Linked DNA regions of Homo sapiens: region 2 is linked to region 1. A link means that fine-mapping ties the variant in region 1 to the expression of a gene that starts in the linked region. Tissue or cell type: whole blood. Region 1 holds a variant in brackets; the other region holds the start of a gene. All regions are shown on one strand. Distances are between the middles of the regions.

Evidence for each region. PIP is the estimated chance that this variant, and not a neighbour inherited with it, causes the effect.
Region 2: MLKL starts here. The variant in region 1 is fine-mapped to the expression of MLKL in whole blood (TOPMed, PIP above 0.99).

The regions. Positions count from the first base shown.
Region 1 is chr16:74,670,334-74,680,384 of GRCh38, reverse strand. It overlaps MLKL (mixed lineage kinase domain like pseudokinase), which reads left to right. Exons shown (of 11, transcript NM_152649.4): 7 at 1,405-1,486; 8 at 4,621-4,772; 9 at 4,981-5,030; 10 at 5,285-5,425; 11 at 7,847-8,530. The coding sequence ends at 7,881. Among named protein-coding and RNA genes, the nearest start is that of RFWD3, 8.5 kb to the right of the region's middle. The variant CAGAG/G (reference allele first, on the strand shown) is at 4,689.
Region 2 is chr16:74,695,820-74,705,870 of GRCh38, reverse strand. It overlaps MLKL (mixed lineage kinase domain like pseudokinase), which reads left to right and starts at 5,009. Exons shown (of 11, transcript NM_152649.4): 1 at 5,009-5,418. RefSeq lists an enhancer at 5,106-5,555.

The DNA.
Region 1 (10,051 bases):
CCTTATCCCACACTTTTGGAAACACTGTCTTAGCTATTAATTTGAAATTAAGTTTGTTTCTTCTCAACTCCCTAAACTAGTGAGTTTAAGGAGAAGTATTTTTGGATGTTGTAGGGGACACTGTTAATATCCCCTCCAAATGACCTCTGATCCTTTTTACCAGCTCTATTTACCCATCCCCCTCTCGGCATGCTTTGCTGCTGAAAGTTCACAGCTGCAATCTTCAGAGGATTGCCTGTGGGCACTGGAGCCCTTTCACCCTTATAGACAGCTGAAAGTGCCCACGAGTTTTATATCCATCTGTCCCTGCCCTCCCCAACACAGTCCATAACCACTGACTGGTGTAAGTATAAAAGTCCAGTTCCTTTGCTTCCTGTGGGACACACTCTGAGGTGTAATTGTGCCCACAGGTCTCCGCGAGACCACCTGAGCCTGGGATTTCACCTGAAATCAACCTCTTGCTTGATTTCTTCTCCTTCGCCATCCTACTTCCTGTACTCCCTCAACCATTTCTCCTGGGAGCACCTTCTTTTTGTTTGTTTGGGGGACTTTTGGAGTTATTTTTTTTTTGAGACAGAGCCTCATTTTGCTGCCCAGGCTGGAGTATAGTGGCGTGATCTCGGCTCACTGCAAACTCCACCTCCTGGGTGCAAGTGATTCTCATGCTTTAGCATCCTGAATAGCTGGAATTACAGGCACATGCCACCACGCCCAGCTATTTTTTTGTATTTTTATTAATAGTAGAGATGATGTTTCACCATGTTGGCGAAGCTGGTCTCAAACTCCTGACCTCAAGTGATCCATCCACCTTGGTCTCCCAAAGTGTGGGGATTATAAGCGCAAGCCACCATGCCTGGTCAAGGGAGCACCTTCTTGATACAAATCCCTCGTGCCCAAATCATGGCTCATGATCTGCTTCTGGGAGAATCTGAGCTCAGGCAGACACCATGAGTGCAACCCAACCTGGGACGCAGGGGCTTTGTGAAACCAAAGCCCTTGTCTGGAAGTCAGCGGGACCCCAGCTTCACATTCTGCTTTGACCTGAAGGGTCCCAGCAAGGTCCAGCCACCCAGCCATGCCTCTGAGCTCTCGGATCTGCCCAGCACTTCCCAGGCAAAGCAACACAGAGGCAACGTTGTCCTTCTCTACCTAAAGGCACCCCTGATGCCCGATTGCATGCACTTCATAAGGGCTGTCATGCCCCCTTGTGCTATGAATCTCATCTCTGTTCTATACTCACGGCTTGTGATTCTCAAACCTTGCCTCTACATCCCAGTTTTTCCTGTGTAACTGTGGACAGGCACCCATGGTACTGTCCAGCCTCATCAGCCCAGTTATGATTGTCAGTCCCCCAAAGAAAGTTTGGGCAAAGGTACTTATGCTCCCCGCCTTTGGCTGTGTCAGGCTACACCATTCAGAAGCACCTGAACTCCACGGAAAAATCAGAAGCTCAAACTTCCTGGTAACTCAAGGCTACCAAGTGAAGGTGAGTGTGCCTTGCGGGGGCGCTTTGGGTCAAACCTGCATGACTGGTGCTATGAGAGGGGCACGAGTGTCTCAGAAAGGCTTGATTCTTGTCTTAGTTTATTTATTTATTTATTTAGAGACAGAGTCTCTTTCTGTCACCCAAGCTGGAGGGCAGTGAGCGAGATCGCCCCGCTGCAACCTCTGCTTCCCAGGTTCAAGCGATTCTCCTGCCTCAGCCTCCCAAGTAGCTGGGATTACAGCCATGCACCACCACTCCTGACTAATTTTTGCATTTTTAGTAGAGACAGGGTTTCACCATGTTGGCCAGCTGGTTTTGAACTCCTGGCCTCAAGTGATCCGCCCACCTGGGCCTCCCAAAGTGCTGGGATTACAGGCATGAGCCACCATGCCCGGCCTTGCCTTGGTTTTAGAACTGAGTTCAATTTTAGTTTTTTAGTTTCAGAACTAACTTCAACTTTCTGTGTGCCCACCACACAACAGTCTCCATCTATGCCGCCTGTTCTGATGACTGCCTTCCCTCACTGCCCATTTAGCAGGGATGGGCTACAAGTCATTTCCCCTTAGATGCCTGGACACCACTTCTATGTCCCTACAACATACAATGGGGGATCTTGTTAGGTTTAAGGACTCAGACTCACAGGACAGGTCTAGGCCACACTTGTCATTCAGTTACTTAGAAGGATGTCAGCAGCGCCAAACCTTTCCCTCCAGGGTGAGTCCTCGCAGTCATCCAGGAGATACTCTCTTTGTCAGAGCCACAGGTGCTGGAGAAAGAGGCTCCCATTAGGTGGGTGTGGGTCATCCAGGCTTAGAAGCCCATGACCTGCAGGAGTCAGCATCTCTGGTAACAACTCTGCAGGCATGCCTTCCAGTGTTTCTGCAAGTGACATGTGAGTTGCTGTTTTAAGAGCTGCCACATCTGGGTATGGTGGCTCACGCCTGTAATCCCAACACTTAGGGAGGCTAAGGCGGGTGGATCACCTGAGGTCAGGAGTTCAAGACTAGCCTGGCCAACATAGTGAAACACTGTCTCTACTAAAAATACAAAAAATTAGCCGGGTGTGGTGGCGCACGCCTCTAGTCCCAGCTCCTAAGGAGGCTGAGGCAGGAGAATCACTTGAACCCGGGAGGCAGAGGTTTGCAGTGAGCCGAGATCGCGTGGTTGAACTCCAGCCCGGGCAACAACAGCAAAACTCCATCTCCAAAAAAAAAGAAAAAAGAAAAGAAAAGAGCTGCTACATGGCCAGGCATGGTGGCTTATGCCTGTAATCCCCGCACTTTGGAAGGGAAGGCAGGAGGATCACTTTGAGCCCAAGAGTTCAAGACCAGCCTTGGCAACACAGTGAGACCTCCCCCTCTTCAAAAAATTTAAAAATCAGCCAGTCATGGTGGTGCACACCTGTAATTCCAGCTACTCAGGAGAGTGAGGCAGGAGGAGGATGCCTAGAGCCCAGGAGGTCAAGGCTGCAGGGAGCTATGTTTACGCCACTGTATACCCTAGCCTGGGCAACAGAATGAGACCCTGTCTCAAAAAATAAAAAAGAGGCTGGGCGCGGTGGCTCACACCTGTAATCCCAGCACTTTGGGAGGCCAAGGCAGGTGGATCATGAGGTTAGGAGATCGAGACCATCCTGGCTAACACAGTGAAACCCTGTCTCTACTAAACAATACAAAAAATTGGCCAGGCGTGGTGGCAGGTGCCTGTAGTCCCAGCTACTCCGGAGGCTGAGGCAGGAGAATGGCATGAACCCAGGAGGCAGAACTTGCAGTGAGCTGAGATTGCACCACTGCTCTCCAACCTGGGCGACAGAGTGAGACTCCGTCTCAAAAAATAAATAAATAAATAAATAAATAAGAAAAATTTGCTACAAAGCATTCCCATCAGCTGTTTACTGTGTAGTCCTGTTACCCCCTTGATCCTGCCCAGAAGCAATCTAACAATCAGCAGTCATTTTTATTTTCATCATCAGCAATGTTACTAAGAGCCATAGGTGACAGTCTACCTGTATCAGATTTCCAGGGGAACAGAGCTAAGAAGTTCACTGGAAGTCAGATTTTCATACAGAAGAGGAAAAGATTTTGTGAACTCAGTGTCCACAATTCCCAAATGCTAAAAGAATTTTAGCAGTTTTCTTTGTCATCCATAGACGGTTTTCTTTCTTCCAGTCCTACGAGTGTCAGAGACAGCCCTCAAATAATAGCAGACAGGCCTTTTTTGCCTTTCAGATGCCTTTCCCCCTCTGCGATGGTGATATAAGTACTCCCAAAACACTGTTTCTACTACTCTCACGCTCTTCATGCAGCCTGACTATAAGATGCGCTATTCCACCTTTCATCCCTGGTATCCCATACGGCGCTAGATGTAAGAGAATGTCAGTGCTCAGGAAACGTGTGAGCAAATGAATGAATGAATGAATGAAAGGGGGATGAGCCATCTAAGTGCCTTATCCCTTTTCTCACATTGCCCCTAGATTTGGGTACCTGGCTGAGTTTGGGGCTGGCAGCCTTCAGCACACCAATGGTGTCAATGGCAGGTGTGCATGGGACAAGAACATATGCTGTCATGATTGTGCTACAGTTTCTTTAAGAACACCAGGTGACCGCGCAGGCCTGGGGGGATGACTCACACTCGTCACGCCAAAGCCAAAGGATCAGGCTGACCCCCCATAAAGTCAGATAGCACAGAGGGGATGCCCCCATGCCATTTTTCCATCTGCTTCTTTGGGAAAAGGCGAGCCAGGCAGTGGCTCTATGACCCCTCTCCACTCTCACTGAGTGGAGTTCAGTCCTCAACTGAGAAACCCCTACATTTTAACATAGTCATACTGGCAACAACTACAACTTAGCAGGTCTTACTGGTGCTTTATAACCATTATCTCAAGTAATCCCCCCTGTCATCGCCCCATTTTATACAGAAGAAATCTCTTTGTGTTTCTCTTGGTCACTGCACTGTGATAAGTTGAACCCATAATGTTAACCAATAAAGTAGCCACACAGACAGAAGTCACGACAGGAAATAAATCCCTAAGGTAAAAGACAATTCCCTGGCAATTGTGTGTAGCAACAATCCCTGCCCTTTACTCCTCTACCCAAGATCTTGCTTGTTTCTTTCTAAGTTGCCTCTCTATCTAGCTTGCAGGATTTGAGTTGAGGAAAACACAGACTTCCATGAGTTTGGGAACTACGAGAGAAAAGACAGA[CAGAG/G]TCAAATCTACAGCATATCTCTCACCTCAGGAACTGGAAGATGTATTTTATCAATATGATGTAAAGTCTGAAATATACAGGTACACTCACGTTCTGGTACAGATTCTAACTCAGATGTGCATAATAGGAAAACCCAAATCAAACTCCTCCAAGGACCACCTAAACTCAACTCTGTTGAATGAAATTGGGTAGTAATCAAAAAATTCACTGAGTTTTCTGGCAGTGGCTAGAGGGACAGGGGAAAGGGGAGACTAGTTATGGTTGTTCAGTTTCTTGGTTTTCTTTTAGCTTTGGAATCGTCCTCTGGGAAATCGCCACTGGAGATATCCCGTTTCAAGGTGAAGAATGTGAAGACTGGCTCAGCCAGTGGTGAGGTTGGGTCCCCTTCCAGTAGACCAGAAATTCCCCATCAGTGCTGCCCCTGGCAATTTGTTGTTTAATGTGGGAACTGCCTGGGCTGGTCAGTGGAATCGTTGGAAGTTCTTGTTGTTTCCATACTCAGAGTCCCTAGTTCTGATGCCAGCCATCAGCATCCAGAGAGATGTACGAGTAGCGGAGCAATTTTTTGAGGCTCTCATGCTATCATTTCCAGGCTGTAATTCTGAGAAGATCCGCAAGCTGGTGGCTGTGAAGCGGCAGCAGGAGCCACTGGGTGAAGACTGCCCTTCAGAGCTGCGGGAGATCATTGATGAGTGCCGGGCCCATGATCCCTCTGTGCGGCCCTCTGTGGATGGTAGGGTTCTTTCTGGTGTAAAGAGCGTGAGCCCCATCATTATTTCACACTTGTGAAAGATTTCCTTTTCACCAGCTCCAAGGCAGTAGTTTACAACGAGGGGTGGTTTTATCCGGGGAACATTTAGTGATGTCTGAAACATTGTTGTTTGTCATAAGGCCAGGGAGGTAGGATGGAGTGTGCTACTGTCATCTAGTGAATAAAGGCCAAGGATGATGGCTGGGTGCGGTTGCTCATGCCTGTAATTCTAGCCCTTTGGGAGGCTGAGATGGGCAGATCACTTGAGGTTAGGAGTTTGAGACCAGCCTGGCCAACATGGTGAAACCTCATCTCTACTAAAATTAGCTAGCCATGGTGGTACATGCCTGTAATCCCAGCTACTCAGGAGGCTGAGGCATGAGAATCTCTTGAAACTGGGAGGTTGCAGTGAGCCAAGATCACGCCACTGTACCACTGCACTCCAGCCTGGGTGACAAAACAAGACTCCGTCTCAAAAAAAAAAATGTTGGCCAGGCGCGGTGGCTCATGCCTATAATCCCAACATTTTGCGAGGCCAAGGTGGGTGGATCGCCTGAGCTCAGGAGTTTGAGACCACCCTGGCCAGCATGATGAAACCTCGTCTCTATTAAAAACCCAAAAATTAGCCAAGTATATTGGCGCATGCCTGTAGTCCCAGCTACTCAGGAGGCTGAGGCAAGAGAATCACTTGAACCCAGGAGGCAGAGGTTGCAGAGTCAGGATCACGCCACTGCGCTCCAGCCTGGACAACAGGGCAAGACTCCATCTCAAAAAAAAAAAAAAAAGAATGCTATTCAACATCCTACAACGCATAGGACAGCCCACCACACAAAGAACTCTCTGGCAGCCCCAATGTCAATAGTGTAAGGGCTTCCAGAGGGCATTGTTTTATCCAAAGTGGGTTGGAAAGGCAGATTACTTTCTTCCTGCCTATTTCCTTCCTTTATTTATCTGTCTGCCTATTTATGGTTTTTTTTTTTTTTTTTTTTAGAGAGGAGGTCTCATTATGTTGCCCAGGCCAGAGTGCAGTGGCTATTGACAGGTAGGATCATGGCACTCTATAGCCTCAAACTCCTGGGCTCAAGTGATCCTCCTGCCTTAGTCTCTAGAGTAGCTAGGACAACAGGCACCACCACAGCAGCATTATCTTGTTGTCTTTTTGTCTTTCTATCTCTCTTCTTTTTCCTCTCTCTTGTTTTATTTTTGACTATCTTTCTCCTTTTTTCCTCCCTCCTTGTCTGCCTTCCTTCCTTTTTTCAGCATCCTTGGGATTATTTCCTCGATGCAGACTTTTATCTCACCATGTCATCAGCTGCTTCTCCATAGCTTCCTTACACTGTCTCCCTCCCTGGAAGCATCTCTCTCTCATACCCTAGACCTAAATCTCCCAGACTTTCCACAAAGCCCAGACAAAAGAGAGAAGGGGCCGGGTGCAGTGGCTCACACCTGTAATCTCAGCACTTTGGGAGGCTGAGGCAGGCAGATCACTTGTGGTCAGGAGTTCAACACCAGCCTGGCCAACATGGTGAAACCCTATCTCTACTAAAAATACAAAAAATAGCTGGGCATAGTGGCACACACCGGTAATCCCAACTACTCAGGAAGCTGAGGCAGGAGAATTGCTTGAACCCCAGAGGCAAAGGTTGCAGTGAGCCAAGATCGCGCCACTGTACTCCAGCCTGGGTGACAGAGCAAGACTCTGTCTCAAAAGAGAAAGAAAGAAAAGAAGAAGGAACTAAAGAGCCATGAGTCCAGACTTTTGAGGCAGCTTCCAAGGATGTTCTGTCTGCTTACAGAAGTCTTGAGCATGAGGACTGTTCTTCAAGGCCTTCTCACAGATGGTCTGTTGGGAAAACCTCTCACACTACCTGAGAGGGTCTCATCTGTCATCTCTCCTCTCCCTTCATCCACATCCCTACCTTTCAGAATGAAGAATCAAAGTCACGGCATAGTTTCTGTCTGAAACTTTCTCTTCACCACCACAGAGCAGAAGCGCAGACTTAATGATGTGTTCTGAAAAATTGGTCTTTGGGGTGGATGAGAAGCCAACAGTGATTTATACAATGCTGTCCTCCACTACACTCTCTCCTCTGTCTTCTTTCTTCTTCTACCAAGCTCCCTTACAACCTAGGGTCCTCCTAGTATTAAGGAATCTAACACCAGAGAGTAATTCATACTAAGATGTGAGTTTACCCCCTCCTGTGAGGTGTTTGTGTTTTAAAAGTTGATCAAGTAAGAGAACTTTATATCCCAAATGTGTGAGTGCTGATGGTGGTTCAGGCACCAGCCAGACCAGGGGGAATGCAGTTTCTAAATGACTGTGCAATGTAGAAATGTCTTTGTGTTTCTAACTTGGCTCTCAGCTGCCTACCCTGGTCTAATTTTCTGTTCATTCATCCACAGAAATCTTAAAGAAACTCTCCACCTTTTCTAAGTAGTGTATCAAAATCTAAACCAAGGAGTCTCTGGACAAGAAGCTGGGAGAGGCACAAACTGGACATCTCTCTCTCTCATATCCTTCGGCATTGGGTTATCTATGGGTGCAAGGAGTGGGCACGCTTCTCTGTTACAAATAGAAAACGATTCCAGTCATACAGGACACATCCCACTCCAAATGATATTTCCAAAAACATACCTCTGACAGTAACTTTGATAGATGGTTTGTCAAATGTATCTTTCTGGGTATCCACACCTCTTGGCAATGAAATTTGCAGCTCCTCCCTTCCATAAATGAAGTCTCTTTCCCCACCATTTGAATCTGGGCTGGCACTGTGACTTGATTTGATCAATAGAATGTGGAAGAAGTGACTGTATGCCAGTTCCAAGCCTAGGTTTCAAGAGGCCTTATAAATGTCTGTTGGAACCTTACCCAGCCATGAACATGTTGAGTGAGCATGCTGGAGAATGAGAGACCACATGAAGCAGAAACATGCTTTCCTAGCTGAAGTCATACTAGCCCAACCAACATGGCAGCTAACACATGAATGAGGCCAATCAAGACCAGAAGAACCACTCAAGCAGATCCCAGCCCAAATTGCCCATTCACACAATCAGGAGCTAAATAAATTACTGTTGTCTTAACACTAAGTTTTGTGGTGGTTTTTTACACAACAGAAGTAACTAGGCAGAAACTGTTCAATTCTTCCTCTTGCCCAAGGAATCAAGTACAAACTTCCTATTTGGATATCCATAGCCTTATGGATATCCCCCATACCATACTTTCCAACCTGACTTTCCAATCAGATGCCAGAGTTCTCCTACCAGAGATTGCAAACTCTAATACCCATAGGGCCTAGGAAGGAAACTAAATGAATGATTTGAACCTGGAGGGGGCTTCAGTGGGCAGATGAGCAAGAACAGCGTCTCCTCAACTCCAGTCTATACTTTGTCACATAGAATGGGATCCCAACATTTCTAGAGCTTTCCATTTTGTCAAAAGAGCTAGAAAGTTGGATTTTTCTGTGATGTCCTTATTTTTAAAGGTCAGTATCTCATTAAAAATTATTTTAGGCTGGGCACGGTGACTCATGCCTGAAATCCCAGCGCTTTGGGAGGCCCAGGCGGGAGGATCATCTGAGGTCAGGAGTTCGAGACCAGCCTTGCCAACATGGTGAAGCCCTGTTTCTACTAAAAATACAAAAATTAGCTGGGTGTGGCTGCCACATGCCTGTAATCCCAGCTACTCGGGAGGCTGAGGCATGAGAATCGTTTGAACCTGGGAGGCGGAGGTTGCAGTGAGGCATGATTGCACCACTGCACTCCAGCCTGAGTGACAGAGTGAGACCCTGTCTCAAAAAAAAAATTATTTTAATGCTGATAAGACAAACAAAATATGTCCACATAGGAGCTGCCAGATTTTAATCCCTGCCAGACTCAAACCCATGTTTGTGGTGCTTTCATTCTAGATTTCTTTTTTTAAGACGGAGTCTTGCTCTGTCACGCCCAGGCTGGAGTGCAGTGGTGCAATCTTGGCTCACTGGAACCTCTGCCTCCTGGGTTCAAGCGATTCTCCTGCCTCAGCCTCCTAAGTAGTTGGGATTACAGGTGCTCACCATCACACCCGGCTAACTTTTTGTATTTTTTAGTAGAGATGGGGGTTTCACCATGTTGGTCAGGCTGGTCTCGAACTCCTGACCTCAGGTGATCCACCCGCCTCGGCCTCCTGAAGTGCTGGGATTACAGGTGTGAGCCACCGCGCCCGGCCTAGAGTTTCACTCTTGTTGGCCAGGCTGGAGTGCAGTGGCGCAATCTCGGCTCACTGCAACCTCCGCCTTGCAGGTTCAAGCGATTCTCCTGTCTCAGCCTCCCAAGTGTCTGGGATTACAGGTGTGTGCCACCACACCTGGCTAATTTTTGTATTTTTAGTAGAGACAGCATTTCACCATGTTGGTCAGGCTGGTCTCGAACTCCTGACCTCAAGTGATCTGCCCACCTCGGCCTCCCAAAGTGCTGGGGTTACAGACATGAGCCACCACACCTGGTCTCATTTTAGATCTTATACCTTTGTTCATGGTGTGTGCTTTGCCTAGGATACACTAATCCCTGTCTTTAAAGTTACATTTTTTTCAGAACTCATTCTAAATCATTCAACAGCAAATGTGCTGTCCA
Region 2 (10,051 bases), 25 kb before region 1:
TTTCTTAAAATGAGTTAGGAAGTGTTTCCTCCTCTCCTATTTTTGGAAGAGTTTGAGAATGATTGGTGGTAATTTATTTTTAAATGTTTGGTAGAAAACACCGCATGTTCTCACTCATAAGTGGGAGTTGAACAATGAGAACACATTGACGCAGGGAAGTGAACATCACCCACCAGGGCCTGTCAGGTGGTGGGGGCTAGGGAAGGGATAGCATTAGGAGAAATACCTAATGTAGGTGGCGGGTTGATGGGTGCAGGAAACCAGCATGGCACGTGTATACCTATGTAACAAAACTGCACATTCTGCACTGTACCCCAGGACTTAAAATATAATAAAAAAATATAATAAATACAATAAATAAAAGTCTCCAAGAAAGAAAAAAATGTTTGGTAGAATTTACTGTAAAACTATTAGGCCTGGACTTTACTTGTTTGGAGGAGTTTTGATTATTAATTCAATTTCTTTACTTGTTGTAGGTATGTTCAGATTTTCTATTTCTCATTGAGTGAATTAGGTAAATTTTGCGTGCCTGGGAATTTGTCCATATCCTCTAGGTTACCTAATTGGTTGGCAAACAATTGTTCATAGTTTTCTCTCATAGTCCTTTTTATTTCTGTAAGGTAGATAGTAAGGTCCCCACTTTCATTTCTGATTTAAGTTATTTTCATCTTCTTTTTGTTTTAGTTTAGCTAAGGATTCGTCAATTTTATTAATCTTTTCAAAGAACTAACTTTCAGTTTCATTGATTTTCTCTTTTCTGATCTTGGTAATTTCCTCCCTTCTGCTAGTTTTGGGTTTGATTTGTTCTTCTTTTACTAGTTCCTTAAAGGGTAGAGTTGGGATAATGATTTGAGATCTCTCTCTCTCTTTTTTTTTTTTTTTTTTTTGAGATGGAGTCTCACTCTGTCACCCAGGCTGGAGTGCAGTGGCATGATCTTGGCTCACTACAACCTCTGCCTCCTGGGTTCAAGCGATTCTCCTGCCTCAGCCGCCTGAGTAGCTGAGATTACAGGTGCCCGCCATCACGTCGGGCTATTTTTTTTTTTTTTTTTTTTGTATTTTTAGCAGACGGGGTTTCACCGTGTTGGCCAGGCTGGTCTTGAACTCCTAACCTCGTGATCCACCCGCCTCAGCCTCCCAAAGTGCTGGGATTACAGGCATGAGCCACGGCACCAGGCCTCTCTCTTTTTCTCTTTTGTAGCCATGTAGCTATAAATTATCCTTTGAGAACTGTTTTTGCTGCATCCCCTAAGTTTTGGCATGTTGTATCTTTTATTTGTCTCGAAGTATTTTCTAATTTCCCTTGTGATTTCTTCTTTGTCCCACTAGTTGTTTAAGTGTATGTTGTTTAATTTCTGCATATTTGTGAATATTCCAGTTCTCTTTCTGTTATTTATTTCTAGTTTTATTCTATTGTGGTCAAAGAAGATGCTTTGTATGATTTTGATCTGTTTAAATTTATTGAGCAAAATATATCTTCATTTCTCTTGAGAAAATGTCCTTTTTGACTCATGAATTATTTAGAAGCATATTATTTGACATGTGATTTGCAAACATTTTCTCCCAATCTGTAACTTGTCTTTTCATCCCCTTAAAAGGGTCTTTGCAGAGCAAGTTTCAAATTTTGATCAAGTCTGATTTATCATTTTTTAATTTTAAGAATAATGGCTTTGGGGCCAGGCGCAGTGGCTCATGCCTGTAATCCCAGCACTTTGGGAGGCCAAGGCAGGTAGATCACTTGAGGTCAGGAGTTCGAGACCAGCCTGGCCAACATGCTAAAACTCCATCTCTACTAAAAATACAAAAAAAAACTAGCCAAGCGTGGTGGCACATGCCTGTAGTCCCAGCTTGTTGGAAGGCTGAGGCAGGAGAATTGTTTGAGCCCTGGAGGTGGAGGTTGCAGTAAGCTGAGATCACAGCACTGCACTACAGCCTGGCAACAGAGGGAGACTCCGTCTCAAAAAAAAAAAAAAGAAAGAAAAAGAAAAGAAGAAAGAATAATAATGGCTTTGATGTTATGCCTAAGAATTCTTCGCCTAGCCTTAGGTTCTGAAGATTTTCTTCTACATGTTCTACAAGTTTTTTTTTTTTTCAAATGTTTGTGATTTTTTTTTTCAAATGGCAACTCCAAGATAAAGCCAAAGAAACTGGGAATTATTTTTAATATTGTACAATTTTTAGTATGAATAGCCATTCTTATTAAATAGACTCATTTGGCCAGGCAAGGTGGCTCAAGCTCGTAATCCCAACACTTTGGGGGGCCAAGGCATGAGGATTGCTTGAGTTCAGAAGTTCAAGATCAGCCTCAGCAACACAGGGAGACCTCTGTCTCTACTAAAAATAAAAACATTTTAAAGGGCTCATTTAAACTTTTTTCTTTTCTTTTTTTTTTTTTTTTTTTTTGAGACGGAGTCTCACTCTGCCACCCAGGCTGGTGTGCAATGGCGCGATCTCGGCTCACTGCAAGCTCCGCCTCCTGGGTTCACATCGTTCTCCTGCCTCAGCCTCCCGAGTAGCTGGGACTACAGGCACCCGCCACCACATCCGGCTAATTTTTTTTTGTATTTTTAGTAGAGATGGGGTTTCACCGTGTTAGCCAGGATGGTCTTAATCTCCTGACCTCGTGATCCGCCCACCTCGGCCTCCCAAAGTGCTGGGATTACAGGCGTGAGCCACTGCGACCGGCCCTAAACTTTTTTCAAACATTTACATTTTCTCAACAGGAAATGTCCTTTCATTCTGCACAGTTCTCTCTGCTTTCTTCTAAAAGGTTCCTTGTTTTACATTTTACATTTAAATCTCTGATCCATTCAGGCAATTTTTGCATAGAATATGAGGTTTAGGTGAAGTTCATTTTTTTGTTCAGTTACTCCACCACCATTTGAACACCACCTATCTGGCAAAGGATTAATATCTAGAATATTTAAACTCTCAAAACTCAAGTTTTTTAAAAAGAATTCAACTAAAAATGGGCAAAAGACATGGACAGACATTTCACCAATGAGGCTATACAGATGGCAAACAAGCACATGAAAACATGTCCATCATCACCAGGCACTAAAGAAATGCCAATTAAAACCATGATGAGACCAGGCGCAGTGGCTCATGCCTATAATCCCAGCACTTTGGGAGGCCAAGGTGGGTGGATCACCTGAGGTCAGGAGTTCGAGACCAGTCTGGCCAATATGGCGAAACGCTGTCTCTACTAAAAATACAAAAAATAGACAGGTGTGGTGGTGCACGCCTGTAGTCCCAGCTACTTGGGAGGCTGAGGCTGGAGAATCGCTTGAACCCAGGAGGTGGAGGTTGCAGTGAGCTGAGATGGCGCCACTGCACTCCAGCCTGGGCAACAGAGTAAGACTCTATCTCAAAACAAAACAAAACAAAAAACCATGATGATATATCACTATTCACCTGTTAGAATAGCTAAAAATTCAGGCAGGGACAAAATAAAATGCTGCTGAGGATGCAGAGAAACTGAATGTCTTGTACATTGATGGTGGGACAGTAAAAAAAAAAAAAAAGAAAAGAAAAGAAAAAAACTTCCAAAAGGTTATACATTGTATGATTTTGTTTATAGCAGATCAGTATACCCATCCTGCAGCTGCTATGAGTGTTGACAGCTAAACACTCACACAGCTTCCCCCTCGTCCAGAAGAATTGCCCTGGGCAGAAAGGAGGCTGCCTCTTGTTCCAGACCTTCACATTCCAGACCTCCCCATGGAGCCTCCACTGACTACATACTTGTTTCACTTTTTCTTCCTCTGCCCTATCATACCCACCACTCTCCTAAGAGTCTTCCTTCAATAAATCACAGGCACCTGTGTTACTTGTTGAAGGTGTCCAGGTTCTTGGCATCTTGAACAAAGAAATGGGCAAAATGCACAAAGCAAGGAAAGAATGAGGCAACAAAAGCAGAGATGTATTGAAAACAAAGGTACACTCCACAGGGTGGGAGCCAGCGTGAGCATAGGGGCTCAAGAACTCCGTTACAGAATTTTCTGGGATTTAAATACCCTCTAGAGGCTCCCATTGGTTAATTGGTGTACACCCTATGTAAATGAAGAAGATGAAGTGAAGTTGCTCAGTCACTTACTCAGTGAACGCCATATGTAAATGAAGAAAATATTTCCTGTCATAGCTGAAATGTGTCCATTTTATTTAGTTCTAAGAAGTCAGCGTGAATCAGCTTTATGTTCCCTGCCTGCAGACCCTATTCTCCTGCCTCACCTCAATCTCTTCACCTAAGACAGGAAGAAAACTGATGATGCAGGAGACGAAGAACAATAGCAAGGCGAAGAAATGAATCTCCAAGGCCGGCTTCAAGCGATTCTCCCCTCTCAGGCTCCCGAGTAGCTGGGATTACAGGCATGCACCACCACGCCTGGCTAATTTTTGTATTTTTAGTAGAGACAGGGTTTCCCCATGTTGGCCAGGATGGTCTTGAACTCCTGACCTCAGGTGATCTGGCCACCTCCGCCTCCCAAAGTGCTGGAATTACAGGCATGAGCCACCACACCCAGCTCCCAGTTCTGTTCTTTTAGAGGCAAATAGTCTGTTGAGTAAATGCATAACACTACTTAGACTTTCTAGCTGAAGATGTAGTTAATCTTAAGAAAACCTGACTCACACTGTAACAGGATGTTCTGCAATGACCTTAGAAGAGGAAGTGACTTTTTTCCCACTTTGGTGTCTCTTCCCTCGTACCCTCCCCACCCCGCCAATATTATCCAGCACAGAGAAGCAAACACCAGAAGCTTCTCTCCAACTTTCAGTTTTTCTCTAAACTTCCAGTCCTTCTCATACTGTGTCCTGGTTATAATAGTTGCTGGGACCTTATTCTATTCTGAATCCCCAGCCCCTAAAGAAGGCTTGGTACTGACGTGTACAGCGTAGTTACCCAGTGACTTTGGGGAAGGCAGGAAGAGTGTGGAAAGGACAGGAGGAAGGAAGGGAGGGGCCGTGGCTCCGAGCTGCCTAGAAAGCGGCTCCAGGGAGCCAGGGCACCGTGAGCCTGGTGGTTGGCAGCTGGAGCCACGTCGGAGGGGGAAGTGTCGCAGCATTCTCTGCAGGCATCACAGACCTGAGGCAGTGGCCTCCGGAGGGCACTGGACAGAAACAGCCATCCAAGTGGCTGAGTGGAGGGACCCTGCTCAAGTGCAGCTGCAGTGGCCGGGGTTTCCCTCAGGTAGGGATCGGGGCGCCTTGTCGCCGCCAGCCACGTGTGGCGTCCGGTACAGTCAGCAGAGTGCAGGGTGCGGGCACCAGGAAAGGGGGCGCAGGGGAACTCCCGCGGGCCTCGCGTTTGCAAACTTCTCGCCTGGGCAGGAGGCGGTCGTGGGAAAGAAGGTGGAAGAGCGAGCTTTTTGGAACTGTGCACGGGACAGATTGGACGCACACCCCTCGGGAGGCGCGAAGGTGAGCATGGGGTCTTCCCAGGAGGCGGCGGGGCCGAGGGGCTGCAGCCGAATTCCTGGACGGTGATGGGAAGAACCAGGGGTGAGGGTGGCCCGGTCCGAGTTCCTGGAACTCAGGACCGAGTTGGTTTCATTTCCTCAGCTCTGATGGTGGAGCTGCCTGCTCGGATCTCGCACTACCTTCCGCCAAAGCGAGACGCCCAGTAGCAGTGGGGGTCGTGGAGGGCAGGGGCACGGGAACAAGTTACCTGATGTCTTCTCAGAAAAAGGAAGTCTTCAGGTTTGCAGGCTGAAGGCGTGAGAGAGAGACAGAGTGAGAGAGAGAGAAGAGGGAAATGCCTGATAACCTTTACTTATTTTATTTTATTTTTATTTTTTATTTTTTGGAGGGAAGAGGTGAATTTGCATTGTTATTACCATTTAAAGATTTTTCACTTTTAAAATTAGTAACCTGTTTTCTCATCGTAACATATGAACATAATCCCCTTTTTCTTTTTATTTATTTATTTTGAGAGATGGAGTCTTCCTCTGTTGCCCAGGCTGGAGCGCAGTGGCACAATCATAGCTCACTGCAGCCTCCGAACTCATGGGCTCAAGTGATCCTCCAACCAGATCCTCCCAAGTAGCTAGGACTACAAGGTGCACATCACCACACCCAATTAAATTTTTTTTGTATTTTTTGGTAGAGCCAGGGTCTCGCTTTGTCACCCAGGCTGGTCTCAAACTCCTGGGCTCAGGTGATCCTCCTACCTCACCCTCCCAAAGTGCTGGGATTACAGGTGTGAGCCACTGCAGCTGGCCTGAACATATTCTTAGCTGTTTGTTTTACATATTATAAATAGCACTGCAGTGAACATCTCGGTAGCCATCTATCTACAAACACAAGCTTTTCTACATCATAAGTTCCTAGAAATTCAAATTGCCCAGTCTAAGTGTGTATATATGTATATTCCCTTTCTTCCCTTGTAGATCATATACTTAATAAGACCTTAAACAATTTAAGTTATTGTAGGGTGCTTTTTCCCAATATTTTGCAGTTTTTAATATATTTTAATTTCATACAGGCAAGTCCCCTTTTCTTTATTTTTTAAAATCCTGGTTATCCCTACTAATTTCCCATTTCAAATGAACTTTAGGATCATTTTGATTTAATGCCAAAATATGTCAGTAGATGTTTTATTGGAACTGCATTAAATTGGATTTAAATTTGGGAAGGATTGCTGGGTTGGTCTGTTTTAGTCTTCCCAGCCAGAAATATAACACTTCTCTTTCCTCCTTTCTTCAAGCTTTGTTTTGTGCAATTTTCTTTCTTTCTTTTTTTTTGTTTTTGTTTTTGTTTTTGAGACGGAGTTTTGCTCTGTTGCCCAGGTTGGAGCACAGTGGTGTGATCTCGGCTCAGTGCAACCTCCACCTCCCGGGTTCAAGCAATTCTCCTGCCTCAGCCTCCCGAGTAGCTGGGATTACAGGCGCCTGCTACCATGCTTGGCTAATTTTAGTATTTTTAGTAGAGATGGGGTTTCACCATGTTGGCCGGGCGATCTCAAACTCCCGACCTCAGGTGATCCACCTGCCTCGGCCTTCCAAAGCGCTGAGATTACAGGCATGAGCCAATGTGACCGCTGCAATTTTCTTCATACCATGCCACCACTGTATAATTTATTATTTGAAATTGTTTGTCAGTTCTATGGGTGGGATATTTTCCCCATTTTCCTTTCTGATTAGTTCAGTGCTGAGATATGGCTTTCTGATGAGGCTGCTGGTAAGATAACTGGAGCTTAGAGCTAGGAAGCTACAATTTGCAAGATTCCTTGAACAACATTGCCACATTTGCTTCTGTTTCTGGTGCAACAGAGAAAGTGTAAAACCTTTTGCCCTCACAATTCCCAAGAAATGGCCTTGAAGATATCTGCTTAGCACGTGGGAATAGCTGGGTAGTCTGAGATCCACTAGTCTTTTTAGGAGTGCCCTAATAACTGTTACCTCCCTTGCCCAATCACTGTAACTCTCAGGCAACAAAAACACAACTATATCGATTGCTCATTTATTTAGTTTCACTTCTGCCAGTGCCTTACTCATGTTTTAAAGCCATACTTGGGCTCCAGGCCAATTATTTTCTCCAAGCTGCTAATTAATCCATAAACTGGCGATAATACTTAACCTACCTATTTCACTGAGCTGTTAAAAAAAAAAAAACTAACTTTGTTTTTTGTTGTCGTTTGTTAGTGGTGGTGGTGGTGGTGTTTTTGAGACACTGTCTCATTCTGTTGCCCATGCTGGAATGGAGTCAGTGGCACAATCATGGCTCACTGCAGCCTCGACCTCCCAGCCTCAATCAATTCTCCCTCCTCAGGCTCCAGAGTAGCTGGGACTACAGGCAAGCACCACCACATCCAGCAAATTTTTGTATTTTTTTGTAGAGACAGGGTTTCACCATGTTGCCCAGGCTGGTCTCGAACTCAGGCTCATACGATCCCCTGGCCTCAGCCTCACAAAGTGCTGGGATTACAGGTTTGAGTCATGACACCCTACCCTAACTTTATTTTAAATACTTTGAAAACTGGTTCCATGGCCTTGTGATTATTTGAATGCAACCTCCCTGAACCGCAGCATCTTCACTTTTCACCTGTTTGTTTTTTCGAGACAGGGTCTCTCTGTTTCCCTGGCTGGAGTGCAGTGGTGTCATCATAGCTCACTGCAGCCTCAACCTCCCAGGCTCAAGCGATTCTCCCGCCTCAGCCTCCTGAGTAGCTGGGACTACAGGTCCCAGCTAATTTTTGTATTTTTAGTAGAGATGGGTCTCGCTGTGTTGCCCAGAATGGAACTCCTGGCCTCAAGCAATCTTCCCACCTCTACCTCCCAAAATGTTGGGATTACGGGTATGAACTACTGTGCCCAGATGGTATCTTCATCTGTTAAATGAAAATAACCATGGAGAGCTGGGGGTTCCAAAGCACTTAGGATGTAGTAGGTGAATTGAGAGATCTAGTGTCATAATTATTATCATCATTCATTGCTGAACGCAGTCGGCTTCAGTTGCAAATAAAGCAAACATGATTCAAACTGCCTTAAACAATCAGGGAGGTTATTGGTTCATGAAACCTGCAGTTAGGGGATGGGGTACACTTCATGTCAGTTCAAACCAGTGGCTCAATGTTGTCATCAAAGACTCAGATTCTTTCTCCCTTTCCATTCTACCATGCTCAGGTTAGCCTCATTCCAAGCTTTAGGATCAGGGCTCTGTGCTTCCTCACTCATGTTCAGAGAAGAGAGAGAGGTTAAGAGTAGGAAGCTGGCACTGCAGCCTCAACCTCCTGGACTCAAGGAATCCTCCTATCTCAACTTCCCAGGTAGCTGAGACTACGGGTGTGTGCCACCACACCAGGCTAACTTATATATATAATATATATGTAATATTATATATATGTATTACTATATATATGTAATATTATATATATGTATTACTATATATGTAATATTACATATATATTACTATATATATGTAATATTATATATATTACTATATATATGTAATGTATTACATTTTTTTGAGATGGTGCAACCTCCACCCCCTGGGTTCAAGCAATTCTCCTGGCTTAGCCCTCCGAGTAGCTGGGATTACAGGCATGCACCACCACACCTAGCTAATTTTTGTATTTTTAGTAGAGACGGGGTTTCACCATGTTGGCCAGGCTGGTTTCCAACTCCTGACCTCAAGTGATCCGCCCACCTCAGCCTTCCAAAGTGCTGGGATTACTGGCGTGAGTCACCGCGCCCAGCCAATTTTATATTTTATTTATTTCATTTTATTTTATTTTATTTTTTTTATTTTTGTAGAGAAAGGGTCTCACTTTGCTGTCCAGACTGGTCTGGAACTCCTGGCCTCAAGCAATCCTCCTGTCTCTTCCTCTCAAAGTGCTGGGATTATCGGTGGGAGCCACCTCGCCCAGCTGCATTTTTCTTAAAGGACTGTAGGAAGAAACTGAACAATTTTTTGTAGGAAAAATGAAAGATAGTCCACATGTTTTAAAAAAAAACAGAAAGAAACATATTTATCTGTGGCAGTAAAGACTACCTCAGCTCACTTCACTCATTTGAATTACCCGCCTGGCCCCTGAAACCTCTATGCTTTAGCAGGATATATCTGTAATAGACGAAACTGATATAAACATATCAACCTGAAAATATTAACGGTTTACATGCAATACAAGTTTATTCCTTGATCACTTAACAGTCCATGACAGACGTTCCAGGTCTGTGGGCAGCTCTCCTCCAAGTGATTATCCAGGGACTCAGGACTCTTCTTGGGGCTCCACCACCCCAGGGCCGCTTCACCCCACGCATCCAGCCAACCAAGGGAGAGTGTGAGGAGGCGGCACAGCTGCCCCAGTCCGAAGTAGAGCAGGTCACATGCACTTAAACCCCATTGGTGAGAACTAGTCACATGGCCACATCAAGTTGCAAGGAAGGCTGGGAGATGTAGTTCCGGCTGGACCAGCTCTTCCCAGCTACAACTCTATTATTGTGCAAGGGCAGAACAGATTTTGGTGGGTAGCAAACCATCTCTATCTTGCATGAAAATGCTGGGGAGACCTCCTCAGGCATTTAAGTCACAGACCGCTTTGATTCTTTCTTAG